Homo sapiens: one gene and its partners. The protein of the gene in region 5 purifies or fractionates together with the protein of the main gene of each other region. This does not show direct contact. Each region holds a gene or a part of one and is shown on either strand. Other genes may lie near its edges.

What was found.
Region 1: the proteins of NECAB2 (region 5) and ZYG11B purify together in Homo sapiens (affinity purification with mass spectrometry; 2 studies listed by BioGRID and IntAct, with this or other methods). This does not show direct contact.
Region 2: the proteins of NECAB2 (region 5) and ACBD5 purify together in Homo sapiens (affinity purification with mass spectrometry; 2 studies listed by BioGRID and IntAct, with this or other methods). This does not show direct contact.
Region 3: the proteins of NECAB2 (region 5) and DCAF10 purify together in Homo sapiens (affinity purification with mass spectrometry; 2 studies listed by BioGRID and IntAct, with this or other methods). This does not show direct contact.
Region 4: the proteins of NECAB2 (region 5) and GRM5 purify together in Homo sapiens (co-immunoprecipitation; one study listed by IntAct). This does not show direct contact.
Region 6: the proteins of NECAB2 (region 5) and GOLGA4 purify together in Homo sapiens (affinity purification with mass spectrometry; one large-scale study listed by BioGRID and IntAct). This does not show direct contact.

The regions. Positions count from the first base shown.
Region 1 is NC_000001.11:52,819,472-52,825,093, reverse strand, and holds part of ZYG11B (protein zyg-11 homolog B), read right to left. Parts: intron 3,656-5,622; coding exon 3,465-3,655; 3' UTR 1-3,464. UniProt on the Homo sapiens protein: Serves as substrate adapter subunit in the E3 ubiquitin ligase complex ZYG11B-CUL2-Elongin BC. Acts to target substrates bearing N-terminal degrons for proteasomal degradation with the first four residues of substrates being the key recognition elements.
Region 2 is NC_000010.11:27,212,355-27,217,976, forward strand, and holds part of ACBD5 (acyl-CoA-binding domain-containing protein 5), read right to left. Parts: intron 3,288-5,622; coding exon 3,181-3,287; intron 1-3,180. UniProt on the Homo sapiens protein: Acyl-CoA binding protein which acts as the peroxisome receptor for pexophagy but is dispensable for aggrephagy and nonselective autophagy. Binds medium- and long-chain acyl-CoA esters.
Region 3 is NC_000009.12:37,803,577-37,807,474, reverse strand, and holds part of DCAF10 (DDB1- and CUL4-associated factor 10), read right to left. Parts: intron 1-3,898. UniProt on the Homo sapiens protein: May function as a substrate receptor for CUL4-DDB1 E3 ubiquitin-protein ligase complex.
Region 4 is NC_000011.10:89,054,669-89,060,290, reverse strand, and holds part of GRM5 (metabotropic glutamate receptor 5 isoform a precursor), read left to right. Parts: intron 1-5,622. UniProt on the Homo sapiens protein: G-protein coupled receptor for glutamate. Ligand binding causes a conformation change that triggers signaling via guanine nucleotide-binding proteins (G proteins) and modulates the activity of down-stream effectors.
Region 5 is NC_000016.10:83,994,928-84,000,549, reverse strand, and holds part of NECAB2 (N-terminal EF-hand calcium-binding protein 2), read right to left. Parts: intron 3,335-5,622; coding exon 3,281-3,334; intron 2,346-3,280; coding exon 2,233-2,345; intron 1-2,232. UniProt on the Homo sapiens protein: May act as a signaling scaffold protein that senses intracellular calcium.
Region 6 is NC_000003.12:37,322,179-37,326,875, forward strand, and holds part of GOLGA4 (golgin subfamily A member 4), read left to right. Parts: intron 1-1,409; coding exon 1,410-4,697. UniProt on the Homo sapiens protein: Involved in vesicular trafficking at the Golgi apparatus level. May play a role in delivery of transport vesicles containing GPI-linked proteins from the trans-Golgi network through its interaction with MACF1. Involved in endosome-to-Golgi trafficking.

The DNA of each region.
Region 1 (5,622 bases), on a different chromosome or scaffold from region 5:
ATTTTCCTCATTATGCCCTAGAACATCATTATACTCTAAAAAGTCAAATTCCATTTCCTTTAGATTTCCTTAATGTTGCTTGTGGACTGATGTAGTGATATTTTACATTGGAGCCCACCAATGATTTGAACAATGAGTGGTTCAACCCTAGTCTAAATTGTGCTTGAAACAGCACCTCTAGCCACTGAGAGATAACACTCAAAGGCACCAATAACAGTTATATTCTAGTCTACAGGTGCAAAAAGGAGGCCTTGTAGATTCTAACTATAGATACTGGCTACTTATGCCTCATAATTCCAATACATACATCCACTGTATTTTAGCCAGATTCAGGACCTTACACACAATTCTGTGCCTTAATTCTATACGCAATTTTAGGAACCATCCCAACTGCAAAGGCACTCAAATTTTTATATATTTGGGATGTAATAAATTATTATGCTTTTTTTTTTTTTGAGACGGAGTCTTACTCTGTCACCCAGGCTGGAGTGCAGTGGCATGATATTGGCTCACCACAACCTCCACCTCCCAGGTTCAAGCGATTCTCCTGCCTCAGCCTCCTGAGTAGCTGGGATTACAGGTGCCCGCCACCACACCCAGCTAATTTTTGTATATTTAGTAGAGACAGGGTTTCACCATTTGGGCCAGGCTGGTCTTGAACTCCTGACCTTGTGATCCACCCACCTCGGCCTCCCAAAGTGCTGGGATTACAGGCGTGAGCCACCGCGCCCGGCCTATTATGCTTTTAAGACTCAGAAGTATCTGGCCACTACTGATGTTTACAAAGTAGGAAATTTAGCCTGTAGTTCCAGCTACTCCAGAGGCTGAGGGGGTAAGATCACATAAGCCCAAGAGGCTGCAGTGAGGTATGATTGTGCCACTGCACTCCAGCTTGGGCGACAGAGTGAAACTCTGTCTCTACAAAAAGAAAAAAAGTAGGAAGTTTAATTTTTTTTTTCCCCAGAGTCTCACTCCGTTGTCCAGGCTGGAGTGCAGTGGCACGATCTTAGCTCACTGCAACCTCCACTTCCTGGGTTCAAGTGATTCTCGTGCCTCAGCCTCCCGAGTAGCTGGGACTATAGGCGTGCAAAAAAGCCACCATGCCCAGCTAGTTTTTGTATTTTTAGTAGAGACGGGGTTTCACCACGTTGGCCAGGGTGGTCTCGAACTCCTGATCTCAAGTGATCTGCCCGCCTCGGCCTCCCAGAATGCTGGGATTACAGGCAAGAGCCACTACGCCCACCCTTGCTTTTACATATTTTGGATGCTTCAACTATTAAGAAGTTATTCTGAGTAAAGAAGGGATTTACTGTTTTCTGTACACTTTTAGCCATTTCTGAAAATAATTTGTAAAGACAAAAACCTAGCATTAGCCTGTAAAGAAATATGCACTTTTGTCTTATAAAACAGAAACTTGAAGCCAAACTTCTTAAATAGGCTTTCCCTTAACTACACTAGATAAAAGACCTGGAAACGGTCAACATATCTAGCAATTTCCAAACTACCACAGGCCATCTCGTTTTCTGAACTTTGTCTTAGACATTAACATTCGAAAAAGGAAAAAAAAAAAAAAAACTTTTAAAAGAATTCTCTATTTTGTCTGAAATAAACTTAGTCTGTGAAAATTTATCTTACGCCTATAAAAATTCCTTAAGCCAATTAAGTCAGCATTAACCCAGCATTTAATATGGTTTTCAGTGATTCTAAATATCTATTTAGATATTTATTTGAGTCAGCGTCTCGCTCTGTTTCCCAGGTGCCACCACACCCAGCTAATTTAAAAAAAAAAAATTTTTTTTTTTGGTAGAGACCGAGTCTCACTATGTTGCCCAGGCTAGTCTTGAACTTCTGGGCTCAAGCAATCCTCCTGCTTCAGCTTCCCAAAGTGCTGGGATTACAAGCATGAGCCACTGCATCCAGACCTAAATGCCTACTTTCTTTTAACTCAGTTTTCATTCACATGAAGGAACTCCAAAAAAAATTCAAGTCTGATTATTGTGATAATGGTATAAAATGTTTGTCAAAAAATGTCATCAGTGAACTAACAAACCAGCTCCTTTCTAAATTAAAATGCTTCTGAATAATCACTATAATTTTAATATTCCATTTTAAATCTCTGTTGAAAACACTGGCCATCTATGAAAAAAAATGTAGTTATCTGGGATTGTAGATTGACCTTATTCACAAAATAAAATTTTAAATGAAAATTAAGTTTCTTGGTGACTTGCTATCTCTCAAGTGCTATTACTGATATAAGTGATTCTTTACTATACTGTATCAGATACCTTAAGGAAAGGTAATTGCCTAAAAAATAATCTGTCAAAAATATGTGCTGTTATGCACTGCGAGTAGAATCATTACATTTAATCATTTAAAGAGTTTAATTATTTTCTTTCATTTTTGGCAGTGAGATGGGGACACTTTCTCTAACATGAACACATTAAGAAGATACACATATTTTGAACAAGAGATTTTAACTTTTTATGGCAAAATTTACTGGTGTCAATTGTATTTTAATTGAGAGGTTAACACCATGTTGCTGTCTCTATTCCACTGAACAAAAATGACTTTGAAATAGAGGAAAAGAATAGCCAGTTTTAACTGGCGATAATTTTTTAAAATCACATTTTCACAACACTACAACATATGGAGATGTAGACAGTTAGTCTTTAACACAGAGTGCTGTAGTATTTTATACTGTGGTGCTTGGGGAAATATTCCTAGTGAATAACCGGCAGTCTGTGCAGGAACCAGCAGTCCACACTTCTAGGTATAAATATGGAGGACAAGCTTCTGCTCACCGCCTCAAGAGAGGTGGACTCCCGAAGGGTAGCCTGTCTCATTTTAAAACCTATACCATGAAACCAATTCCCAGTTCCTACACTCTGTTCTACCTTCATAATTTTTCTTTCTCATATATCTTTCCGCCAGCCATCCAGGCTCCTGCCAGTGATTAGCTTCCACAAGATGATCCACATTTCCCTTCTTTCACACTAAGAAGGACATCTTATAAAATATACACAGATAGAGAAGAAAGGCATTTTATACAGAAGCAGTATAAAATTTACAACTGAAGCAGTGTCAGAAATCAGGTCAACAGCTTATGTGAAGCTGCAAATTGATTGGAAGGGACTCTGAGATCAGAAAAGTCTGGCCTAAGGGTTCGTGCAAACTTTACCATAAAACTGTAGAATCTCAAGCACAAGTAAGTTCAAACACTGAAAGATGTGGAAAATTTCCTAAAAGGCAATGATAAAGGAAGAGACCCTTCTTGACTCATAAGTTTAAAATCACAAGACAAATTAGAGACTGTTCACATGGGCAGTACTACACATTATCAATCCCAAACTGATTTTATGACTCTTGTCATAGAAACCCCCAAAACATCAGGGAGGGTAAGATATTCCAAATGGACCAATCACAAAAAGGATTCCTGTGATTCAACTATCCAATACTTATGGCTATCAATTTAGTCTGGCTTGGGGCTGTTTTTTACAGGGAGGTGGCCTCCCATGGCGCACAATGTGTTTTTCTAAGCTATCCAGAATGGCCACAGCAATCTGTTGGACATGGGGATCAGTATGTTCATGATCTTTGATGTTGTATAAATGCTGCAATCCTCCTTCTTCAATCAGCATGCTGCAATACCTTGAAGCTGAAAAAGAAAAAAAAACACACACAAAACAGGAGAAATAGCTTTTCTTAAAACACTTGAAAATTATTCCACAAAAAAATGACTTCTAGGAGCCATTTTTTTTTAGCTGTTTTGTTATTGATCACTAACATGCTACAGCTTGATAAATAACCTCTATACTGATGTTACGTCTACAGTGCAAGGCCTACACATTCAATCAATAAATAGCTAGCTTGATTTTTCTAACCTCAAGACATGTACAACCTGTATTAAAAAAATAAAAACAATCATAACTACCTTATCTTTGACCCAAAATCACAGGTAAGTGTTGTTATATTTTTATGCATTTCCTATGCTTTTTTTTTTTTTTTAGACAGAGTCTTGCCCTGTTGCCCAGGCCAGAGTACAGTGGCGCAATCTCGACTCACTGCAGCCTCCGCCTCCTGGGTTCAAGCGATTCTTGTGCCTCAGCCTGGAAATACAGGCACATGCCACCACCCCTGGCTAATTTTTTTATTTTTAGTAGAGATGGGGTTTTACCATGTTGCCTAGGCTGGTCTCAAACTCCTGCCCTCAAGCAATCCTCCCGCCTCAGCCTCCCAAAGTACTAGAATTACAGGCATGAGCCATAATGCCAGGCTGCATTTACTATGCTTTTTAAAAACTTAATGGCACTCATACTGCACATACAATTTTTAAATTTTTGAAATATTTTATTAGCCTTTTTTTTTTTTTTTTTTTTTTTAAAGACAGTCTCATTCTGTTGCCCAGGCTGGGGTGATCATGGCTCATGCCCAGTGGTGTGATCATGGCTCACTGCAGCTTGCTGTGTTGCCCAGGCTGGAGTCCAATGGCACAATTTTGGCTCACTGCAACCTCTGCCTCCCGGGTTCAAGCAATTCTCCTTCCTCAGTCTCCTGGGTAGCTGGGACTATAGGCACCAGCCACCACACCTGGCTAAATTTTTGTATTTTTGGTAGAGGTGGGGTTTTACCACGCTGGCCAGTCCAGTCTCAAACTCCTGACCTTAAGTGATCTGCCTGCCTCAGCCTCCCAAAGTGCTGGGGTTACAGGTGTGAGCCACCACACCCAGCCACATTAAAACATTTTAATACAAATAGAAGTGAATTCCATTTAAATATAAACAAAATAAGCCCACAAGGTAGGAACCTAAACTATCTGAGTTGGAGACAAAATATTCTAATATTCCCCAAATTACAGTGCATTTTAGAATAAATTATTCAGGGGCTGGGCGTGGTGGCTCACACCTGTAATCCCAGCAGTTTGGGAGGCCGAGGCGAGCAGATAACGAGGTCAGGAGATCGAGACCATCCTGGCTAACGTGGTGAAACCCCGTCTCTACTAAAAATACAAAAAAATTAGCCAGGCGTGGTGGCAGGCGCCTATAGTCCCAGCTACTTGGAAGGCTGAGGCAGGAGAATGGCGTGAAGTGGGAGGCGGAGCTTGCAGTGAGCCGAGATCATGCCACTGCACTCTAGCCTGGACGACAGCAAGACTCCGTCTCAAAAAAAAAATAAAATAAAATAAAATAAATTATTCAGGGCTGTCATTCCATAGAGTAAAACCTAAATAACTCTAATACCTAAAAGTAGTGACAAAAATAAATACTCATATGAAAATGCACTATTATTATTATTATTATTATTTTTTTTTCAGACAGAGTCTCACTCTGTCGCCCAGGCTGAAGTGCAGTGGTGCGATCTCGGCTCACTGTAACCTCCACCTCCCAGTTCAAGTGATTTTCCTGCCTCAGCCTCCCTAGTAGCTGAGAGTACAGATGTGTGCCACAACCCACAGCTAATTTTTTGTATTTTTAGTAGAGATGGGGTTTCACCATGTTAGCCAGGATGGTCTCGATCTCCTGACTTCGTGATCCACCCGCCTTGGCCTCCGAAAGTGCTGGGAATACAGGCGTGAGCCACCATGCCCAGCCAAAAATGCACTATTATTTACTTATTATGTTTTAT
Region 2 (5,622 bases), on a different chromosome or scaffold from region 5:
ATCAACTGATTGAGAGAGAAAACAGGAACAAAACTAGAATGTAGCAGCTGGATATTTACTGAGATTAATCTCTATCTGGTCCCTTTCATCAACCTTCCCCAAATATCTCTTTTTTAAAAAGAAAAAAATAAAAGGGAATCTGAGTTTTTCATCCTTTTCATTTTTCACTAATTTCACTCATTCTCAGTTTGGCCTCCTTATCATTATTCTTCCAATTTATGCTGCTTTTTTTTTTTTTTTTTGAGACAAGTTCTGGCTTTATAGCCCAGGCTGGAGTGCAGTGGTGCGATCTTGGCTCATTGCAACCACTGCCTCCCAGGCTCAAGCCATCCTCCCTGAGTAGCTACCATGCCTGGCTAAGTTTTTTATTTTTTTGTAGAGACGGGGTTTTGCCATGTTGCTCACGCGGCTCTGAAACTTGTGAGCTCAAGTGATCCACCTGCCTCGGCCTCCCACAGTGTTGGGATTATAGGTGTCAGCCACCATGACCAGCCTACGCCACTCCATTTGTGTTTGACCTTAAGTAAAAGATATTTTATTCATGTGTTTTTAAAATTTGAGAAAAGGGGTAGATTTAATTGCATTATGAAATGAGAAAAGGAGAAAAACACAAAAAGTTAAAATCATTTCAGGGAGGCAAAAGATAAATGATTTTCTATAAGACACACTGAACTGTATTAGAACAGGGTAGGTAGGTAGGAAACAGAATGGGGAGAGGATATAAAGAGGCCAAACAGAAATATAGCTGTCAAAACCACCTTTGTCAGATTAATAAGTAGAATACATAAGGAGCGTAAACAACTCAATAGGAAAAAAATCTAATAACCTGATTAAAACTGGGCAAAAGATCTGAATAGACATTTCTCAAAAGACCTACAAATGGCCAACAGGTATATGAAAAGGTGCTCAACATCACTGATCATCAGCGAAATGCAAATCAAAACTACAATGAGATATTACCTCGCCCCAGTTAAAATGGCTTTTATCCCAAAGACAAGCAATAACAAATGCTGGCAAGGATGTGAAGAAAAGGAAGCCCCTGTACATTGTCGGTGAGAATGTAAAATTAGTACAGCCACTGGGGAGAACAGTATGGAAGTTTCTTAAAAAACAAACAAACAAGCCGGGCGTGGTGGCTCACGCCTGAAATCCCAGCACTTTGGGAGGCCAAGGCAGGCAGATTACCTGAGGTCAGGAGTTCGAGACCAGCCTGACCAACATGGAGAAACCCCGTCTCTACTGAAAGTACAAAATTAGCGGGGCATGGTGGCGCATGTCTGTAATCCCAGCTACTCGGGAGGCTGAAGCAGGAGAATCACTTGAACCCAGGAGGCGGAGGTTGCAGTGAGCCAAGATCATCCCATTGCACTCTAGCCTGGGCAACAAGAGGGAAACTCCGCCTCAGAAAAAAAAAAAAGTACCAAAAATAGAGTTACCATATGACCAGCAATTCCACTGCTGGCTGTATACCCAAAAGAAAGGAAATCAATATATTGAAGAGATATCAGCACTCCCATGTTTATTGCAGCACTATTCACAATAGCCAAGATTTGGAAGCAACCTAAGTGTCCATGAACAGACGAATGGATAAAGAAAATGTGGTACATATACACGACAGAGTACTATTCTACCATAAAAAAGAATGAGATCCTGTCATTTGCAATATGGATGGAATTGGAAGATATTATGTTTAGTGAAATAAGCCAGGCATAGAAAGAAAAACTTCAAATGGTCTCACTTATTTGTGAGAGCTAAAAATTAAAACAATTAAACTCATGGAGATAGAGATACAATGAATAAGATCTAGTACCTGATAGCACAGCAGAGTGGCTATAGTCGGCAATACTTTGTTGTACATTTTAGAATAACTGAGGGAGTACAATTGGAATGTTTGGAACACAAAGAAATGATGACTGTCTGAAATAATGGATACTCCATTTACCCTGATGTGATTATTACACATCATATGCCTGCACCAAAATATCTCATATACCCCATAAATATATATTTATTATATTTTTTATATTTTACAAAAATAAAGTGGAGATGGGGGTCTCGCCTTCTTGCCCAGGCTGGTCTCAAACTCCTGGTTTCAAGCGAAGTTCCTGCCTCAGCCTCCTGGGATTACAGGTGTGAGCCACTGAGCCCAGTCTAACCCATGAATATATATACCTATGTGCCCATTAAAATTAAAAATTAAAAAATTAAAAATTAAAATACTGCTATCATCATTATCAGAAAAAGTTGAGAAAAAGGATTCATGGATGTCCTATAATTTGTTTTTCAAGTTTTCTCTCCCAATACTGGATCTTAATTAACTGAAATTTAAAAATTATTTCCACTAAAAATTTCAATCCAGTGAATTACAGTCAATGTGGAGAACAGACTTATTTGTTTGAAAATTATTCAGGCCAGCCTTGGTGGCTCACACCTGTAATCCCGGCATTTTGGGAGGCTGAGGTGGGAGCACTGATTGAGGCCAAGAGTTTGAGACCAGCCTAGGCAACATATCAAGAACCCATTTTTAGGTTGGGCACAATGCCTCACGTCCATAATCCCAGCACTTTGAGAGGCTGAGGTGGGCAGATCACTTGAGGTCAGGAGTTTGAAACCAACCTGGCCAACATGGTGAAACTCTGTCTCTACTGAAAATACAAAAATTAGCCAGGTGTGGTGGCACATGCCTGTAATCCCAGCTACTTGGGAGGCTGAGGCAGGAGAATTGCTTGAACCTAGGAGGCGGAGGTTGCAGTGACCCGAGATTGCGCCACTGCACTCCAGCCTGGGTGACAGACAGAGACCCCATCTCTAAAAAACAAAAAAAACAACAAAGAAGATCATTCAATTTTCCTGAACATTAATAAATGTTTCAAACATTGGGACTAGCATAAAAAGTGTTTTCTCTGCATCCCCATCCCACGTCTCCTAGAATATTTATAAATATATGTATATTATTAGTTATAATGGAGTAGTTAATATTATTAATTTTTCTTTGACTTTTCCAGAATTTTACCTATTTTTGAATTCATAAAAAATAGTTTAAAATACAAATGTTTAAACATTTTAGGAGTATCTTTTCAAAATGAAAAATAGCATGTATATTTGCTACTAACAGAAGTTACGCATTGAATTCTAATACACCACTTTGAAAATACACCAATCAGAAAATGTCATTTTTACCTCTTCTTGTCCAAATTGTTCCATAGAATCACAGTAAACTTCACTGTCTGAATCGCTTGTCAAATGCTGAATTCCTGTAACATCTTCAACATGATCATCATTTATATCTAAATATGAACAAAAGTGCAGATAGGGTAATTATACTATAGTAGAAGAAAAACAAATTTATTCCTTTGTTTTTTTGAGATGGAGTCTTGCTCTGTTGCCCAGGCTGGAGTGCAGTGGTGTGATCTCGGCTCACTGCAACTTCTACCTCTCGGGTTCAAGTGATTCTCCTGCCTCAGCCTCCCAAGTAGCTGGGATTACAGGTGCCCACCACCATGCCCAGCTAATTTTTGTTTCATTTGGTTTTGTTTTGAGACGGAGTTTTGCTCTTGTGGCCCAGGCTGGAGTGCAGTGGTGCGATCTCGGCTCACAGCAACCTCCGCCTCCCGGATTCAAGTGATTCTCCCGCCTCAGCCTCCCGAGTAGCTGGGATTACAGGTATGGGCCAACACACCTGGCTAATTTTGCATTTTTAGTAGAGACAGGGTTTCTCCATATTGGTGCGGCTGGTCTCAAACTCCTGAGCTCAGATGATCCACCCACCTTGGCCTCCCAAAATACTGTTTATTTTTGGTTTTTGAGATGGAGTCTCGTTCTGTGGCCCAGGCTGGAGTGCAGTGGTGTGATCTCGGCTCACTGCAACCTCTGCCTCCTGGGTTCAAGTGATTCTCCTGCCTCAGTCTCCAAGTAGCTGGGATTACAGGTGCACACCACCAAGCCCAGCTAATTTTTTGTATATTTACTTGAGATGGGGTTTCACCATGTTGGCCAGGCTGGTCTCGAACTTCTGACCTCAGGTGATCCGCCTGCCTTAGCCTCCCAAAGTGCTGGGATTACAGGCATGAATCACCGCACTCAGCCAACTTTTGTATTTTTAGTAGAGACGGAGTTTCACATTGTTGGTCAGGCTGGTCTCGAACTCCTGACCTCAGGTGATCCACCCGCCTCGGCCTCCCAAAGTGCGGGGATTACGGGCGTGAGCCACTGTGCCTGACCTTTGTTCCATTTTCAAAATTCATCAGCCTTATATTATTTTTATACTGAGAGACGAATTTGATTTATCAAGCCACACTTTTTAAAATTTACCAAAACTTTAAATTTAGTTGATAATTTTTATTTGAAAAGATTACAAAATATTTTATCATTGAATTCCATAAAGACAGCCTAGATGAAATCTTATAAAACCTAATAACCCTGTAAGAGAAAACTACCTACCAAGCAGGATGCCTAAATGTAAGATCCAACTAGGCAAGTTTGGTTCTTACATTACGAAATGATGTTTCTTGGCCGGGCACTGTGGCTCACGCCTGTAATCTCAGCACTTTGGGAGGCAGAGGAGGGCAGATCACAAGGTCAGGAGATCGAGACCATCCTGGCTAACACGGTGAAACCCCGTCTCACTAAAAAATACAAAAAATTAGCTGGGCATGGTGGCGGGCACCTGTAGTCCCAGCTACTCGGGAGGCTGAGGCAGGAGAATGGCGTGAAACCAGGAGGCGGAGCTTGCAGTGAGCTGAGATCGCATCACTGCACTCCACCCTGGGCGACAGAGCGAGACTCTGTCTCAAAAAAAAAAAAAAAAAAGATGTTTCTCGGCCGGGCGCGTTGCCTCACACCTGTAATTCCAGCACTTTGGGAGGCCAAGGCGGGTGGATCACTTAAGGTCAGGAGTTTGAGACCACCCTGGCCAACATGGTGAAACCCCGTCTCTACTAAAAATACAAAAATTAGCTGGGCATGGTGGCACGTGCCTGTTATCCCAGCTACTGGGGAGGCTGAGGCAGGAGAATTGTTTGAACCCAGGGGGCAGAGGTTGCAGTGAGCCGAGATTGCGCCACTGCACTCCAGCCTGGGTGACAGAGCGAGACACCATCTCAAAAAAAAAAAAAAGAGAAAAGAAAAAGAAATGATGTTTCTCACATGTACTATTATGTATCCCTAAAAATTAAAAAATAAGCCAGTGCATGGCTCAAACCTGTAATCCTAGCACTTTGGGAGGCCAAGGCAGGCAGATCACTTGAACCCAGGAATTCCAGACCAGCCTGGGCTACCTGGCAAAACCCTGTCTCTACAAAAAATTTAAACATTAACTGGGCATGATGGTACATGCCTGTAATCCCAGCTACTTAGGAGGCTGAGGCAGAATTGCCCAGGAGTTCAAGGCTGCAGTGAGCCATGACTATGCCACTGCACTCCAGCCTGGGCAACAGAAAGAGATACATATATAACCTTGGCCCTAATTCACTCTTTTTCAAAACTATAAATGCTTATAATATTAATAAGCCCTAAGATATTATTAAATAAGAGATTTTTAAATTAAACTGATCCTAAAGATCCTATAATTACTAAAAGACTATTCATAGGAAAGAGGCTGGACACAGAATTATTTGGGGACAA
Region 3 (3,898 bases), on a different chromosome or scaffold from region 5:
CATAATCTTTTATTTGACACAGATGCCCTTGTCTGAACCATGAATTGACATAGGAAACTAGATAAAGCCCTTCTAAGAATGTCCACATTAAATTTATAGTCATTAAATAACTTGTAGTCATGATACGTTAAAAAAAATCACACTTTTTAAAATTTTTTGTAGAGACAAGGTCTCCCTATGTTGCCCCAGCTGGTCTTGAACTCGAGCTCAAGCAATCCTCCACCTTCAGCCTCCCAAAGTGCTAGGATTATAGGCATGAGCTGCCATACCTGGCCTAAAAAAAAGAAATCACTCTTAACATCAACAGAATTGTTCATGGGAGCTGAATCCTCTTTTTGGCTTTTGCTGAAGTAACAGTAAGTATATTTTAAAATGTTTTTAGCCCTTCAAATGCTTGCTGTTAGTTTCATATAGTCAATATTTGTTTAAATATATTAATAACTAAGTCACAAAAATAATTTATTGATATACTTAATTATATTAAACCTAATCCCTCAGTCCAGGTGAGAGGTAACGTAACACAGCAGTTAACAGCATACACCAAGGTACAGAACCTTCATTTAATAAACTTTCTGCTTCTTAATTCCCCCAACTAAATGTGTCTGGTAGACAGAAAAAGATGTATTTTGGTAGTCATTTTCATTTATAACATGAGTGTCATTAATGCCTACTGTAGGCAGGTATTCATTGGGTGTTGGCACACTTATCCTATCTAAATAATGGGGAAATTAAACAAGAATGATAAAACTAAGGATGTGCATCCCAGAAGTTATTCATCCATAAACCATCCCCACAGGCCTCGATCATCTGCTGTAGATTCTATCCTGCCATGGGAATGTATACTGTGCCAAGAGAATTAATATATTTTGATGGCAACTGCGGTAGTACAGTACTATTACTCTCATTTGACTGCTCTTCTTTCTGGATCTCCCGGGGCTGTAGTTCCCAAAGGGGCCATGTGAGAGTGATATGAGAAAGGTAGGCAGCCCTACTCTTAGGGAAGCCAGATGGTCACTGGGCCTATGGATTTTTTTGTGTGTTGGAGGTTGCCAGGCACGGGTGAGGAGTAATTAGAATGGCTGCTGCCCTGTAGTTCTCCAGTGAGATGTTTGCTGACAGTCTCTTGCTGTCCTAGTTCTTAACTCTTTAGTTGCTATATAATTGGTTACTATAGGAAGTCCCAAGGAAGGCGATGAAGCATTAAGATGACACTTAACAGGCTTGGGACAGTAACTGTTCAACCACTATGGACATATCAATATTTTAACAACTAGTATAGCTGAACCAGTATCAGCTGAATAGCAGGCCTGAATGTAGTCTACGAATGCCATTAAGAGTAAGATTTTAAGAGGTACTGTTCTTTTATTTATTTTTTAATTTTATTTTATTTTTTGCAAGACAGGGTCTCTGTTGCCCAGGCTGGAGTGCAGTGGCACAATCCTGGTTCACTGCAGCCTCCACCTTCCGAGCTCAAGTGGTCCTCCTGCCTCAGCCACCTGAGTAGCTGGGACAAAGGGACACGTCACCACAACCAGCTAATTTTTGTACTTTTTGTAGAGACAGGGTCTCCTTATGTTGCCCAGGGTGGTCTCAAACTCCTGGGCTCAAGTGATCCACCTGCCTTGGCTTCCCAAAATGTTGGGATTGTAGGCGTGAGCCACTGCGCCAAGCTACTCTTTGTCTTTTAATTAGAATATTTAGTACCTTATAGTTATTGCAACTAGTAATGTTTGGATTTATTTTCAGCTATTCTTTGTGCTTTTTATTTATTATATCTTGTCTTTTTTTCTTTTCCTTTCTTGCCTTCTTTTGGAATTTTTTTCTCATTCTGTACTTTTTCTTGTACTAGTCTGGAAATTATAATCTTTCTTGTCTTTTGGTTCCTTGAAAATTTTAAATACCTATTAAAGCCCAAAGTTAACATATATTATTATCCCCCCAAATACATAAAAACTTAGAATGTCACTTATCATTTATTTTTATTTTACTTTGAGATGGAGTCTCACTCTGTCACCCAGGCTGGAGTGCAGTGATGTGATCTCCGCTCACTGCAACCTCTGCCTCCCAGGTTCAAGTGATTTTCCTGCCTCAGCCTCCCAAGTAGCTGAGATTACAGGTGTATGCCACCACACCAGGCTAATTTTTTTGTATTTTTAGTAGAGACAGGGTTTCATCAGGTTGGCCAGGCTGGTCTCACACTCCTGACCTCAAGTGATCCGCCCGCCTCGGCCTCCCAAAGTGCTGGGATTACAGGCATAAACCACCACACCCGGCCTCACTTCATAATTTATATGCTATTATTGTCTTCTATTTTTGTTCCATCTCTATTAATCCCAAAAGACATTATCAGATTAACATGTACATACATATTTAACACTTTTTGTTCTTCATTCCTTCTAGCTTCTCAGACCTTCCGTTTGAAAATAATTTCCTTCTCTCTGAACTTAGAATTCCTTTATTGGAGGTCTGCTGGCAAACTTACTCAGCTTTCCTTGTCTGAATATGTATTTATTTCATCTTTGTTCTTGGCAAGGACAAAGAACCTATGTTTGTTGGGTATAAATCTAGACTGAGGGTTTTTTCCTAGCATATTGAAATAATTACCACTGTCTCTATATTTATATTATGGTTGAAGACTAATTGGCTATCACTCTCATAGTTGCTCCTTTGAGGCCTTTTTTCTCTACTTTTTTTTTTTTAAATGGAGTTTTGCTCTTGTTGCCCAGGCTGGAGTGCAGTGGTACGGTCTTGGCTCACCGCAAGCTCTACCTCCCAAGTTCAAGCGATTCTCCTGCCTCAGCCTCCTGAGTAGCTGGGATTACAGGCATGCACCACCACGCTCGGCTAGTTTTGTATTTTTAGTAGAGACAGGGTTTCTCCATGTTGGTCAGGCTGGTCTCGAACTCCCAACCTCAGGTGATCCACCCACCTCAGCCTCCGAAAGTGCTGGGATTACAGGCGTGAGCCACCGTACCCGGCCCCTTTTTCCTCTGTCTTTTAAGATTTTATATTTATTGTCCCACAGTTTCACTACAATATGTCTAGAAAGAATTCTTGCTTGGGTTTGTTGGGCTTCTTAAATCATGGCTTGGTGCCTTTCTTCAATTCTGGAAAGTTCTCAGCTATTATGTCTTCAAATAGTCCCCCTTACACCATATGATATGCTTATATGGTATAAGCGTACCATATAGTTAGCCAGAGTTCCTGAAGAAACTGGGACTATTTTCTTTAGGAACTCTGGCTAACTATATGGTATGCTTTTTCTCTCTATGCTCTGTGTTACTAAATCTCCTTTTCATATTTTCAATCTCTGTGTTTTCCAGGTCTGTATTCTAGTTAGTTTCTTTGCTTCTATTTTCCAATATGTGAATTATCTCTATAGCTGTGCCTAATGTGTTCTCATGGAGGACAGTTTGACAGGGTCTGACATACTATAATTTATTAACATTATCAATTTTACTTTTTCAAAATGTCATTTTAGAAGGTGATACACTTATTTTGACAATGTTTCTATCACTTAAAACATTTTTTGAATTCTTTAGAAAATACCTTCTAACCCATTTATCTTTTTTATTGCCAAATTCCTTATATTGTGGTCTCTATTAAATTCATAATTTTAATTTTTACATTCTGTGTCACCCCCTCCTTCTCTGTATTGAGAAGTCCTTGAGGGTGACAGTGGTTATGCTACCTGGTAAGCTGATTTAACTCATATTTAACTGAAAGATATGAGAAATTACCTCATTTAACACGGATATGTCATCTATCTGTAAAATTACTTTAAGTCCTACACAAATGTAGGGCATACTAGATGAAGTAAGAAGACTGAAAAATTAAAACACTGAAGTATTTTCACTCATCACCCTGATAAACATGAAAAAGAATGGCAGTATGCAGT
Region 4 (5,622 bases), on a different chromosome or scaffold from region 5:
TGTGTATATATATATATATATATACCATTTACCATATATGTAAAAGGCAAAAATAATGGAAATATATATACATACATACGCAAAAGAGAGAGATTTGATTTGTTTGGCACTAAAATTTACCGTGTTTCCTTTGTTTTGAGCTGCTTTACTCTGTGGTGTGGCTAAACAATAAACATTATGGGATTATTTTACTGTGGTTTCCAGTGAGTTGTAGTATGTTGGAAGTACAGGCTCTGGCTTCAAATTGCCTGGGTTTGAATCTCAGCTTTGTGGCTTACTACTTGTGTGACCTTAGGCAAGTTACTTAAATTTATGTACCTTAGTTTCACTATTTTCAAATTGGGGGATGGGTTATAGCAGTACATGGCATGGAGTGAATATGATGAATAAATTGCACAAGTTAGAAAAAAAGCAATAGGTGCAGAAGGAAAACCACCATGGCACACATAGACATATGTAACAAACCTGCACATTCTGCACATGTATCCCATTTTTTTTAGAAGACATAAAGAGAAAAATAAATTAAAAAAATAAAGTATCTGACCCATAGTGAACAGAGTGCAAACTATCAATCCTACCCAGGCCTTTGGATGTCGAGTTTTCTGCGTTTCCTATGTTATTACATTTAATGTTCAACTGCCCTATGGATTGTGTCTTATCTTTATTTTATGACTTTAATGATAAAACATAATACTAACATAGATTAAATAACTTGTCCAATGTCCCACAGTACAAACAAAGGTGACAAAGCCGGTATTTAAATCTAGGATCATCTGATTTCCAAACTTTTATGATACTGACCTACAGCTTACAAACATATATCAATTTTTTTGAATTCTACTAATTTTGAGTCAGCATCCCTTCCTCTGCAAAGGAATGTGCAAATATCTACTTTTCTCATATATTCAAGAATATTTTAAAATAAACATGCAAATGCTTGAAGATAATCAGAAATCAAAATAATACGTAATTGCTATCTCAAATATCTCCTTTTTTAGTCAGACTGTAGAAGAAGTGTAAAAGAAAGACTTAGATGCAAAATATATATTTTCTGTATATATTATTCTATTGGTCTTGCAAATATATCAGATTCAAGAAAAATTCTCTAATGATTAGTTGTTCACAATAATGCTGGTTCAGGCCATGGGTTTTAAAATTTTGAGTATAAATGTTCTGAGGAAAATGAAAACTTGTAATCACAGTGATAATAGTGAGCACTTTAATAATGCAACCTTCTTACATTCATTATATTTTACAGAAGAATAATCAAAAATATTTTTTGAAAAACAATTTGTCTAAATGCATAGTAATGTAGAATTATTCAAAGACATAGAAGTAAATAATACACTATTATATCATTTGTTTAAAAATAAATAAAATGAAAAATCAACATGTAAATTAATTTATAAAGTTATCGTTATTGTTGCAGTCTTGTTAAAATTATAATAAACTTTGCATTTCCTATCAAGAACAGCCTTTGAATTCGGGAAGTATATCGTAGGATACTCTCCTCACATTCATTTCTTGTAATTTGTGATACTTAGAACTATGCATATTTAATGTAAGGTAATATCAACCTTGACTCTTAAAGCTTAAATTTGTCTTTCTCAAATTGAAATTTCTACCTTTTCAACAAGATAATACAGACAAATAACTGCATAAACATTGAGTAAGGCAAGCCTATTTCAACCGTCTCTCCTTAGCATTATTTGGAAGTTTCAGGTAGAGAATTTCTAAGACTGATGGGTCCAGATGATTGGCTCTTAGGTATGCTCTTCTTTCATGACTATGTCGATCTTGCCAGGATTAACTTTCATGTAAATTAGTGTTTTTCAACTGGAAGTGACTTTGACATACAGGCGACATTTGCTAATATCTGAGGACGTATTTGTTTATCAGAGCTGGGAGGGGATGGCATTGTCGTCTAGTGAACAGAAGCCAGGGGTGCTGCTAAACAACCAACAGTGCACAGACAACATCCGCCCACAACAAAAGATTATCCACTCCAAAATGTCAATAGTGCTCAGGTTGAGAAACCCTTATCTAAATGATGCTAGGAAACAGAGTTTCCTATATTTACTTGATTTGTTTGTATGCTTTCTGATGAATTTATGTACGTTACATAAGAATTTAATGGAAAGCAGAATCTCCAAAATGCTTTGCAATCAATGCATGAGGTTTGAATAACCAATTCACTTGTTTTTTTTTGTGGGGAGACCTCATTATTTGTTTATTAAGTTTGGGCTTTGGAGCCAAATATAGTTGGATTCATGTCCTGGTTCTGCCATTTATTGTAGGTTTGATACTTTGGAGAAGATTCTTGACCTCTAAACTTCGATTTCTAGAGGTAGTAACATAGGTAGTAATTATACCTACCTTACAGGGTTATTGTGAGTCTTACATTAAATAATTATTATACATTATTTAACAGAAAGAAGGCACTTTATAAATATTATGTATTAATAAGTAAGTGGAGATCATGTTATAGAAATGTAAAACCACGGTCTCAAGCATTTAATGATATGTAATGTAATATATAAATAATGATTTACAGTCTTCAGAGGTATACCCTTAATAACAAGAAATCAGCTGAAGGCTACAGGATGTGTAAAAGTCTAAAATCCCTGCTTTATAATTAAACTGAGACTAGTTAACAGTGGATTGCATCATGTTTATTGCTTTGCTGCAGAAGGCTGTTCCAGGTCTTCATAGACTGCTAAACCACTTGTTTAAATGATTTACAATGATTTAGTGAGCTCTATTGAACTGCCAGAACTTTTTAATTAATGGATAAAATTACAGATTTCATCTTTGTACAATAGTGTTTTATGGCCCTTTTTTTGTTGAGGGGGTTTCAGTTAAAATATGGCCTATATTTTGTGGGGCTAAACAGTGGGGATGCTGCATTTTCTTGTTTACAGGGTCACAAATGTGTGATTGAGATAGTAATGACAATGGAGCTTTCCTCAGACTACAGGGTTCTCTGTATCATTGCACCTCAGGCTGTCTCTTATCTGTGGTATGCACTTGTTTTCAGAAAAATATATCAGATGCATTGATGGCATATGCAATATTGACAGCCCTGACTGTTTGTGATGAGGCCACTGATCAGGCAGAAGAAATCATTTTAGTGTTTATGTCCTGAGCTGTGTGATTTGCTTGTGTGGAGATTAAGTTATATAAGAGACATCTGTGCCAGAAAGATGGTCAGTATTTTAGAAGATTGTTGAAAATAAAGGACAATGTGAGCTGTGAATCTGATTATATAGTGTAGATTGCAATTTATGGCAAAGTTTATCCATCAATATCTCTTTTTCATATCATTTAGGATATAATATGAGAGTGTGTGGTTACCTGATGTGAAATACTTTTGTATGTATTTAAAATATGTCTATTGTTTTCTATAATGTGCTAGTAATTAATTTACTCTGCTAAGGACCCACAAATATAACACTGAGTAAAGCATACTTCTGAAAATAGGTACTTGAACTAATATACTATATAATCAAACTATTAATACATTTACCCACTTTTTAGTGAATTAAATGTCACCATATTATTAGACTGTAGATCATAACATTTTAAAAGCTTTTTTATCATTACAAGAATTAATGCCTCCCCATTATCTACAGGATAAACCTGCCCCTTTATTTCTACTGACATATTATCCCCACCATCTAAAAGCTATAACCTAAAGAAAATAATTTATTTTACTTGAGAATTTGTTTCCTACTATAAGAAATTGGTGTTCTTAGACATTTCTAGAAGTATTATTTTTAGGTAGATGTGAGATCAAGAATGAAAAAAGGCTCTTTACGCTGAAAATAAAGTATTGTGGTATTTTTCTTCATCTTTTCTTTTACTAGACACTTGTTAAAATAATGAATGAATCTTGTGGTGACGTTGCACAGGAGAAATCTCACCACAAGGAGAAATGGCCTTACTCAGGAACTTATATAGAAGCAAGAGAGAGTAGATCCTCACAGAAAGAATATTGGATAGTTCTCAGAATTGATGATGTTAATGAGACAGATCTTGGAGTGAAGTTGATATCATCTTTTATATTCTACATTCATCAGTTGTAAACCAGGAGAAACATTTATGCCAGAAATATCATCTTTAAATAATTGTGCTACAAAGATACTTTCAAAAGCAAGCAAAATGCAACATTGTTTATGATATTAAGACAAATCTATAAATAACCTTAATATCTAACAATAAGGAATAATTAAATATTGGTACACACATATAATTGAATGCCATGCAACTGATAAAATTAAATAAATGTTCTAAATGTGACTCTTGGCTCTGGTACTACCCACTTGCTTGGGAATCTGGGCCAAGCCTCTGTATCTCTCTGAGCCTCAGTTCTTTTCTCTGTAAAATGTGCATACATAACTTATTTTACAGTTTGTATGACAACTAAATGTCATTTCATGTGAGATACTTAGCAAAGTGAACAACACATGATATGCCCTCTGTATATTTTAATTGTTGTTATAATTGTCCCCATCATCCAAATGAACTTATATGAAAGATATTTATATTATACAAAGAAAATAAAAATATATTATGAGAGAGATTTCATATTAAAATTTTATTTAAATAAAAAATAAAATATTATAAGCTTTGAAAATTATATAAGAGCTGATACCAAGTTGTAAACTATGATTAAAATTGTGTTTTGAGTGACATTTTGTTGAATTCAAGTCCCAGGTCTGCTATGAATCATTTGCTTTCCATGGATCTCAGTTAAATGGAATCATCTCCAGGGCCCTCTCTAGTTTTGTGATGCTATTTTCCTTAAACATCCTACAATATTAGCTTGGTAATGAATACTATAAGAAAGTATAAATAAATTGCCATGTGAGCTTGGAGGATAGAGCAAACACTGCCAGGTGAGGGATATGGTAATAATTTAGGAAGGGACTATTTTTAAATATTAGCTTATTCAATACTCACTAAAACTCTTTGGGGTAGGTACTGCTGTCACTCCAATTGCCAATAAAGGCATGAGGCTCAGAGAGGCTAAATGCCTAAGGACACACCGCCAATAAATGGCTGTGCCAGGATTCCAATTCAGGTCATTGGACTCCAAGCCCATGCTCTTAACAACTCTGCTATGAAGACAATTGGAACAACTGCATATCAGGGATCAGAAGCAGCATGTGCAAAGCCATTGGAATAAAACAGTGTATACTTGGACAAGAGCCTAACTTGACTAATAGGCTCCCAAGGAGGAATGGATGGAAGGAGATAAGGTCTCAAGGGAGAAAGTTGCAGAAATTTAGAAAGCATATCCCTCAGTTCCAAATTAAAAATACTAATGATTAGCAAATATGTTGTATTACTATATTTATAAATTTAGAAAACACAGATGAAGAAAATAAAATTAAAAGTACTATATTTTTACTACCCAGAGAACACTCTATTAATGTCAATGTATATGTTTCCAGTCTTTATGTATGCATACATGCCCACCCATAATATTTCTTGAGAAAATCAAAGCATACCGTCCCTTTATTTCTGCATGATACAACATGAATACTTCACATTTTACTGCTTCTCTCTCCTCACTTCACAAAAGGAAGTTTCTATTCAAAAAATCGTTCAGTCTCCTTT
Region 5 (5,622 bases):
GCCTGGCTTCTTATAGTGGCCAACAGCTATTTATTAAATAGAATCAATGCAGTGTAGTTTTTCTTTTGAGATAGGGTCTCACTCTGTTGCCCAGGCTGGAGTGCAGTGGCACAATCACTTCAGCCTTCCAAGTAGCGGGGACTAGAGGAGTGCACCACTCGGCCTAATTCAAAAACTGTCCCAATAGAGATGGGGTCTTGCTATGTTCCCCATGCTGGTCTTTAACTCCTGGGCTCAGGCTGTCTTCTCACCTTGGCTTCCCAAAGTGCCAGGATTGCAAACTTCAGCCACTGTGCCCAGCTGAAATGTCATGTTAAAGTGTGAACATTTATTTAAACAAAACCAGGTGGCTGGATGTGATGGTTCACGCCTGTAATCGCAGAACTTTGGGAAGTCTTGAGGGGTCGAGGCAGGTGGATTACGTGAGGTCAGGAGTTCAAGACCAGCCTAGCCAACATGGCAAAACACTGTCTCTTTAAAAAAAAAAAAAATAAAACTTGCTGGGCCTGGTGGCACATCCCTGTAATCCCAGCGATGCAGGACACTGAGGCATGAGACTCATTTAAACCCTCTGGTGAGAGGTTGCAGTGAGCTGAGCTTCCACTACTACACACTCACTCCTGCCTGGACAATAAAGCAAGATTTGGTCTCAAAAAACCTTTAAAAATCAAAAAACCTTTAAAAATCAAAGCATCTTCCCTCTTCTTCCTTCTACTTGTCCTCTCATTTAATCCTTGCAACACCCCCACTGCACTGTACCTGACCTGACCAAAGGAGGCTGAGGGGAGGGGGTGCTGGGCCACAGAGGAAGGGGCTGCAGGCAAGTCCCCCATTGCTCTATGGGACCCAGGGGCCCGCACTCACGTCATTTTAAAGGTGCTGATAGTCTATGCCGCCCCAGAATCCTCTCTGCAAGTGCACTACAATGAGGAAGCCCCAAGTGACCATAAAGCGGGGGCCAAAAGCTGGGGAGGAGGGGCTACAGTGCTCAGCCTAGAGGAAGGGGCCGGGCTGGATTCCATCTTGGGGTGGACACACCTCCGTGCAGCTTTAGGTGCACCATGCCTGGGAAGTAGAATCTCACCTGGCTCTCCAGGCTTGCCGTCTCCAACTCGACAAACCAGAGCCTCTACGTCCACCGTGCCTCCTCTCCACAGCGCATCGGGGTGGCCCTACTTCACCCTGGAGCCTCCCACTTATTCACGTAATGGAAAAAGATCAAGTCTGGCCCCTGCTCCTGTGCAGTCTGTCCTCCTGGAGTGGAGTGGGTCCTGCCCCCCCATCCTGGCTACTTACTCAAGAATGGCCCCTCGTGGCCACGCCGAGTCTCGGGAACGGCCGCACTCCTGCCCAGGCTACTCCTCCCCTCGTGCTACAGGTCAGGCTGTTGTCACTCAAGCCTCAGTGCACAGGGGGCCCAAGAAGACCCCTCTCAAAGACCCTGTGCTAGGACCTGGCCTGCCTGGTTCACAGCCATGTCCCCAGGCAATGGGGTGAATGAGTGTGTGCTCTGGGGATGGAAGAAAGCCCTGGGAAGGGAGTTGGGCAGAGCCTTGCTGCAGAAACGGGGGGCGGGGGACCACTACCAGCAAGAACAAAGGGCTGTTGTCTTCTGCAACCCCCTCCACTCTGGCCCTGGCCACATGCCTTAGCTTTACCAAGGAGCTACATCAGCCTGGTGGGATGAACAGGAATTTGAAGGTAAGGCCGCTTGCCCCGCCCTGGACATCTCAGCACATCAGGGGGAGAAGGGCAACTACATGACTTGGGCATTTCCCTTCAGCTACCGACTCTCCTCTCCTTCCTCAGTGGTTAACTGAGCAAATACTACATTCTGGGCCTGGACTTAAGTGTGCAGGAACCCCTGTGACAGCAGCAGCTGAGGCTGACTGAGCGCACGGGGCACACCAGGCCCAGCTGGAGCCCTTCACACTTGAGATTCACACACTTGATTGTATATGCACTCATGATCACCCCAGCAAGGAGTCCTGGGGGTGGTCCCCCCTTTACAGATGAGTAAGCTGATGCCAGGGAGATGAAGACACCTGCCACATTTGCTTGGCTGGGAGGAACCTCAGTAGAGACCTGAACCCACTTCTTACGCATCCAGCTGTGTGTGTCCCTGGGGTGCAACTTGTACTACTTAGGGCAAAGCCTAGTCCTGCCCTGTTCCTCCACTGCCAGGCAGAGCTCCCTGCCACCATCCCACCCACGCCTCGGCAGCTCACTCACTGGAAGCAGTTCCTCACGCCAGTGGTCCCCCGCAGATACTGGCGCAGAGAGTCCAGAAACTCGCTCAGTTGCTCGGGGCACACGGCCATCTCCTGCCGGACCAGCTGCAGGTGCTGCCGGGCACAGCAGGAGTCAGTGTGGGGCTCCACGTCAGGCCTTCTCCCTAAACACCCCATCAGGCCCCCATGACCTCCCTTCCTCGGTCAAAATAAAATAACCCTCCCCCACTTTTCATTCTTACCCATGAATGGATAAGAATGGACTAAAAATGGGCTAAGAAAGGACTAGAACCTCAAGAGCCCAGTGCAGAAGTAGCCCCCAAAAATGGGGAAAACAGACGAGGTTGTTTACAGAGGCCCCATCCATGTCCACAACCACCTGCACAGCCTCCAGGGCCTGGAGACACAGCACATCCACTGACAAGAAAAACTCATAGTTGATGGACTCAGCATTTTCACATCACTGTCTGGCTGATCACTTTGCTCTATGCCAAACCTTTTTTGGATCAAAGTCCAGGAGCCTCTGGGCCAGGTGTGGTGGCTCACGCCTGTAATCTCAGCACTTTAGGAGGCCAAGGTGGGCAGATCATGAGGATAGGAGTTTGAGACCAGCCTGACCAACATGGTGAAACCCTGTCCGTCTCTACTAAAAATACCAAAAAAATTAGCCAGGCGTGGTGGCACACACCTGTAATCCCAGCTACTCAGGAGGCTGAGGCAGGAGAATTGCTTGAACCCAGGAGGCAGAGGTTGCAGTAAGCCGACATCCCACCACTGCACTCCAGCCTGGGAGATACAGCAAGACTCCATCTCAAAAAAAAAAAAAAAAAAAAAAAAAAGGTCCAGGGAGCCTCAAGAAATACCCCCGGAGTTGGTGGGGTGGCTCCTGTGCCAGGGCAGGGTCTGGGTGCCAAGCGCTGGGCGACATCTCCCCTCCTGGTGGTCCCAAGCAGGGAGAGCGGGGTCAGGGGCATTGAGCCACTTGGATCTTGGCAGTCCTGGCATGGGTAGGGATGTGGTCCCAGAAGAGAGGTGGGAAGGGGCCTCACCATGTTGGTGCCATCTTCATCTGACAGGCGCTGCTGCAGGTCGAACCACAGTGCCTGAAACAATCCAGCACACAGTGATGCTAGACCCAGAGCCCCACTCCGCCCCGGGGAGCCAGGAGCTCTGGGATCCCTGGGGCTGTTGGGAGCTCCCAAGGACCCGGCCCTGTTGCACAGGGCTGGGAGACCAACGCTAGGAAGTGGCAGAGACTCCCTCTGGCCTACAGGGGGCCTAGAACATGTTGCTGGGGTGAGGATGGCTTGGGAGAGGCAGCAAGGGGGACTCCAGAGGCCTGAGTCCAAGATGCTGGGGTTTGCCACTATGATGAGCAACAGCCCTTAGATTCCCTGTAACTTATAATTCACCCCAAATCATAACCCCCAGCACCTCAGGGATCTAATGGGGTGAACTGTTCTCTCTGGTCTTCCCCAGACTCTAAGCTAGATGGTTTACAAATACACAATCTTCCAGACTCCCCAGGGAAGGTGCTGCCCCACTGTAAGTTTCGGTCTCCAGGAACCACATCTGCTCTGTTCGCCCACGACTGGTGCCCACACAGGGCTGAGCCCCCACAGAAGATCAACAGTCACTATGTCACGGCAGAGAACCCCGGCTCTGAAGGCACGAAAGCCATGTAAGTGTCAGAGCGTGGGTCTGAACCCAGTGTGTCTACCTGACGCACAGGCTCATGCTGCTGCTTCCTTCAGCTTGGGCACCCCACTAACCACCTCTGTGGCTATCTCTGTCCATCCTCCATGAGGACAGACCATCTACGGGAGTCACACAGGGCAGCCACAGGTAAAGCACGCCAGCTAATAAGGAAAACAGCAGCAGGTGGATGAGTCTGTGTAGTCACCACCGTGACGTTCTAAATGTTTGAGCAAGGGACCTTGCACGCTCATTTTGCACTGGGCTCTGTAGTAGCTGATCCTGGCAAGGGTACTGCCTTCTGGGGGCACACAGCATGAACACGCCTTGGTAAGTGGTGAAGGTGTGCCTGGCAGGAACAAGTCTGTTTCCATGGTTTTACAAGCATACGTGAGGGGTCCTGGGGCTGGAAAAGCCATAGGAGGATGAGGAGAGGCACTGTGGCCCCTGTATCTGCCCCATTCTTCTCCCAGCCAGGGGCCCCTAGAGCCTCCATCCTTCCAGCCCAGAGGCAGCTCCGGTTGGCCGGTGAAGGGCGGGGCCTGAAGCCAGGCCCGGATTGGCCCCTGCTGACCGCCCGGGCCAGTTAGAGGCTGGGGAGGAGGACCTGGTCCCACCCCGTCTCCAGGACGCCCAGGTACTCCGTGGTTACCAGCCAGCCTGGTTGTTAGGGCGACGGTGCTCTAAAAATAAGCTTCAGAGTCTCCCTCCCGAGGCGCCCGCTGAGTTGTTATGACAACCGGGCCACGGGGTCCCCTCCGAGCCGCTCCCGCAGCTGGCTTCAGGAAGGGGGTAACTCCACCTCAGCCTCATCCCTGCAGGAGGGGAAGTTTGAGCTTCCTCCCTCGGACTTCATTCCACGTCAGCCTCTGTCTCCCTCCATGCGGGGAGCCCCTTGTTCCTGCCCCCATGAATGCCTGAGAACCCCCAAACTAAAAGTAGCAATACCCTTTACAAAGGGTGTAAAAAAAATACACAAAAGTAGGAGAAACATAAAACCACCTCAATCCCAGGGTTCTGAGAGCTCAGTTACCTTGGCTTATGTGGGTATACGGGTGTGCTGTGTGCATGTGGATAGGTTTGGGTAACAGAATGCCTCATAATAATTGCTAACATTGCTAATATTAAATGCAAGCTACAGCACCGGGCCCTGTGCTAAACCGGAGACATCATTTTGGTTCATCCTAACGACACCCCTATGAGGGAGGGGTCCCATGCTCCAGGTTATTTTCTTGATTATCAGAGGAGGAATCTAAGCCTCAGAGAGGACAAGTCCCTGGCCCAGGGTCACACAGCTATGAAGTGGCACAACCAGAATTCTGACTGATACCTGAGCCCATCTGTCTGTAGGCCCTAAGACAAACTTTTCTTTCCACCAAATGGTCATATTGTGAGCACTCTATCCCGAGTCACGAAACATTATCTGAAAATGTTTTCTGTAAGGGCTGTGCCATTTTCTATCACCTGTGGACGTCCCATATCACACTTAATACATTTGCTACTGCTGGTCACTTCCTTCCTTGTTTTGAAACTCTCTCGAATCATCACGTCTCTCTTTCATCCTGGTGCTGCCTTTCGGCCAATATCTGCTCCAGCCACTTCAGAGCAAAGTCTCCTTGAAGCTAGGGCCTTGCAACACGGGACCCTGCTGACCACCCTCTGCTCCTGGAGCTGCTCCTGCTGCCTGCAGGCCCGC
Region 6 (4,697 bases), on a different chromosome or scaffold from region 5:
TAGGAAGTGGGCTCATTTTGTAGGCAATACTTGCCCTGGCACCTTTCTGCTTGTCCAGGTTTATCTTATGCCATGTCCTGAACGTAATCCAGCCTCTGCTTATATCACAGTTTAATTACACTAGTGTGTGGCTTTTGCATTTGGTTTCCCCAGTTTTTCCATACTAAACATAGTCCCGTAATGAACATATTTGTGTGTATGTCCCAGAGTGTACGTTTTTTTAAAGGCCCTGTCTGATCCTTTCCTTAGCAGTATTTGAAATGTACAACCTATTTTGAAAACTAACTGATGTTTAGACTTGTTAGCTTTTTTGCTCTGATTTAGATAGTAAAACAGTCATACTTCTTACTCATAGTTCTAAACCATGCTTAATTTTTCCATCACTAACACTTGCAAAAGGTTCCATGGTGGGTGAAATGGACACTTAGGAGGCCTAGATCTTCCACTTGTTAGATTTTTAAATTAATTGTACTTTAATTTCGTCACCTGTCACATGAAGAGATTAGATTCAGTAATTCCTTAGGACCCTAGGACCTTTCCAGCTCTGACATTCTGTGGCTCTGCCTTATTTAACTCCTTCAGAGTCAAAATTACATTTTCATGAGATAATAATAATCTTTGTTAAAATTCATATAAGTTCCTTCTTTATGAAAAAAAAAAGAACCTTCCAAATGATAATTTTGAAGGTGGAAAAATCATACATTCTTTTTCTTCTAAAATTATGAGAATAATAAAATACTATGTAGGCCTTAAAAATTGGAAAAAACCCCAATCTTCCTACCAGAAGTTACTGTTATGAATTTTATGGTTTATTTCTTTTTACTATCCAGTTAAAGTATTATTGAAAATGTAGGTAGCTGAAAAGGTTCCCCAAGTAAATAGAAAGAATCTGAAAGTATGAGTTGGGTTAAACATGTAATCTTTTCTTTCCTTTTGTCTTTTTTTTTTTTTTTTTTTTTTTCCAAGACAGAGGAGTCTCGCTTTGTTGCCCAGGCTGGAGTGTAGTGGCATGATCTCGGCTCACTGCAGCCTCTGCCTCCTGGGTTCAAGGGATTCCCCAACCTCAGCCTCCCGAGTAGCTGGGACTACAGCCGCATGCTACCATGCCCGGCTAATTTTTGTATGTTTTGGTAGAGACAGGGCTTTGCCATGTTGGTCAGGCTGGGTCTCAAACTCCCGGCTTCAAGTGATCTGCTCACCTCGGCCTCCCAAACTGTTGGACTGTGCCTTGCCATAATCTTTTCTTTGTTATATGATTCCTTTAGTAATTGAGCATAGATTCTTTGTCTTTTCTAGTGTTTGGTATGATAATTTTGATCTTCAGGTAGGTGGTAGACATCATGTCTGTGTATCATTGTTAGTAGACAAGTACGTACTTTAATAAAAATGCATCTGTTTTTAATTAACAGAGAATTCTTGAATTGGAAAGTTCTTTGGAAAAAAGCTTACAAGAAAACAAAAATCAGTCAAAAGATTTGGCTGTTCATCTGGAAGCTGAAAAAAATAAGCACAATAAGGAGATTACAGTCATGGTTGAAAAACACAAGACAGAATTGGAAAGCCTTAAGCATCAGCAGGATGCCCTTTGGACTGAAAAACTCCAAGTCTTAAAGCAACAATATCAGACTGAAATGGAAAAACTTAGGGAAAAGTGTGAACAAGAAAAAGAAACATTGTTGAAAGACAAAGAGATTATCTTCCAGGCCCACATAGAAGAAATGAATGAAAAGACTTTAGAAAAGCTTGATGTGAAGCAAACAGAACTAGAATCATTATCTTCTGAACTGTCAGAAGTATTAAAAGCCCGTCACAAACTAGAAGAGGAACTTTCTGTTCTGAAAGATCAAACAGATAAAATGAAGCAGGAATTAGAGGCCAAGATGGATGAACAGAAAAATCATCACCAGCAGCAAGTTGACAGTATCATTAAAGAACACGAGGTATCTATCCAGAGGACTGAGAAGGCATTAAAAGATCAAATTAATCAACTTGAGCTTCTCTTGAAGGAAAGGGACAAGCATTTGAAAGAGCATCAGGCTCATGTAGAAAATTTAGAGGCAGATATTAAAAGGTCTGAAGGGGAACTCCAGCAGGCATCTGCTAAGCTGGACGTTTTTCAGTCTTACCAGAGTGCCACACATGAGCAGACAAAAGCATATGAGGAACAGTTGGCCCAATTGCAGCAGAAGTTGTTGGATTTGGAAACAGAAAGAATTCTTCTTACCAAACAGGTTGCTGAAGTTGAAGCACAAAAGAAAGATGTTTGTACTGAGTTAGATGCTCACAAAATCCAGGTGCAGGACTTAATGCAGCAACTTGAAAAACAAAATAGTGAAATGGAGCAAAAAGTAAAATCTTTAACCCAAGTCTATGAGTCCAAACTTGAAGATGGTAACAAAGAACAGGAACAGACAAAGCAAATCTTGGTGGAAAAGGAAAATATGATTTTACAAATGAGAGAAGGACAGAAGAAAGAAATTGAGATACTCACACAGAAATTGTCAGCCAAGGAGGACAGTATTCATATTTTGAATGAGGAATATGAAACCAAATTTAAAAACCAAGAAAAAAAGATGGAAAAAGTTAAGCAGAAAGCAAAGGAGATGCAAGAAACGTTAAAGAAAAAATTACTGGATCAGGAAGCCAAACTTAAGAAAGAGCTTGAAAATACTGCTCTAGAGCTTAGTCAGAAAGAAAAACAGTTTAATGCCAAAATGCTGGAAATGGCACAGGCTAACTCAGCTGGAATCAGTGATGCAGTGTCAAGACTGGAAACAAACCAAAAAGAACAAATAGAAAGTCTTACTGAGGTTCATCGACGAGAACTCAATGATGTCATATCAATCTGGGAAAAGAAACTTAATCAGCAAGCTGAAGAACTTCAGGAAATACATGAAATCCAATTACAGGAAAAAGAACAAGAGGTAGCAGAACTGAAACAAAAGATCCTCCTATTTGGGTGTGAAAAAGAAGAGATGAACAAGGAAATAACATGGCTGAAGGAAGAAGGTGTTAAGCAGGATACAACATTAAATGAATTACAGGAACAGTTAAAGCAGAAGTCTGCCCATGTGAATTCTCTTGCACAAGATGAAACTAAACTGAAAGCTCATCTTGAAAAGCTAGAGGTTGACTTGAATAAGTCTCTGAAGGAAAATACTTTTCTTCAAGAGCAGCTAGTTGAACTGAAGATGCTGGCAGAAGAAGATAAGCGGAAGGTTTCTGAGTTGACTAGCAAGTTGAAAACCACAGATGAAGAATTCCAGAGTTTGAAATCTTCACATGAAAAAAGTAACAAAAGCCTAGAGGACAAGAGCTTGGAATTTAAAAAACTGTCTGAGGAACTAGCGATTCAGCTAGATATTTGCTGTAAGAAAACCGAAGCCTTATTAGAAGCTAAAACAAATGAGCTAATCAACATTAGTAGTAGTAAAACTAATGCCATTCTTTCTAGGATTTCTCATTGTCAGCACCGTACAACTAAAGTTAAGGAGGCACTGTTAATTAAAACTTGCACAGTTTCTGAATTAGAAGCACAACTTAGACAGTTGACAGAGGAGCAAAATACACTAAATATTTCTTTTCAACAGGCTACTCATCAGTTAGAAGAAAAAGAAAATCAAATTAAGAGCATGAAGGCTGATATTGAAAGTCTTGTAACAGAAAAAGAAGCCTTACAGAAGGAAGGAGGCAATCAGCAACAGGCTGCTTCTGAAAAGGAGTCTTGTATAACACAGTTGAAGAAAGAGTTATCTGAAAACATCAATGCTGTCACATTGATGAAAGAAGAGCTTAAAGAAAAAAAAGTTGAGATTAGCAGTCTTAGTAAACAACTAACTGATTTGAATGTTCAGCTTCAAAATAGCATCAGCCTATCCGAAAAAGAAGCAGCCATTTCATCACTAAGAAAGCAGTATGATGAAGAAAAATGTGAATTGCTGGATCAGGTGCAAGATTTATCTTTTAAAGTTGACACTCTGAGTAAAGAGAAAATTTCTGCTCTTGAGCAGGTAGATGACTGGTCCAATAAATTCTCAGAATGGAAGAAGAAAGCACAGTCAAGATTTACACAGCATCAAAACACTGTTAAAGAATTGCAGATCCAGCTTGAGTTAAAATCAAAGGAAGCTTATGAAAAGGATGAGCAGATAAATTTATTGAAGGAAGAGCTTGATCAGCAAAATAAAAGATTTGATTGTTTAAAGGGTGAAATGGAAGACGACAAGAGCAAGATGGAGAAAAAGGAGTCTAATTTAGAAACAGAGTTAAAGTCTCAAACAGCAAGAATTATGGAATTAGAGGACCATATTACCCAGAAAACTATTGAAATAGAGTCCTTAAATGAAGTTCTTAAAAATTACAATCAACAAAAGGATATTGAACACAAAGAATTGGTTCAGAAACTTCAACATTTTCAAGAGTTAGGAGAAGAAAAGGACAACAGGGTTAAAGAAGCTGAAGAAAAAATCTTAACACTTGAAAACCAAGTTTATTCCATGAAAGCTGAACTTGAAACTAAGAAGAAAGAATTAGAACATGTGAATTTAAGTGTGAAAAGCAAAGAGGAGGAGTTAAAGGCATTGGAAGATAGGCTTGAGTCAGAAAGTGCTGCAAAATTAGCAGAGTTGAAGAGAAAAGCTGAACAAAAAATTGCTGCCATTAAGAAGCAGTTGTTATCTCAAATGGAAGAGAAAGAA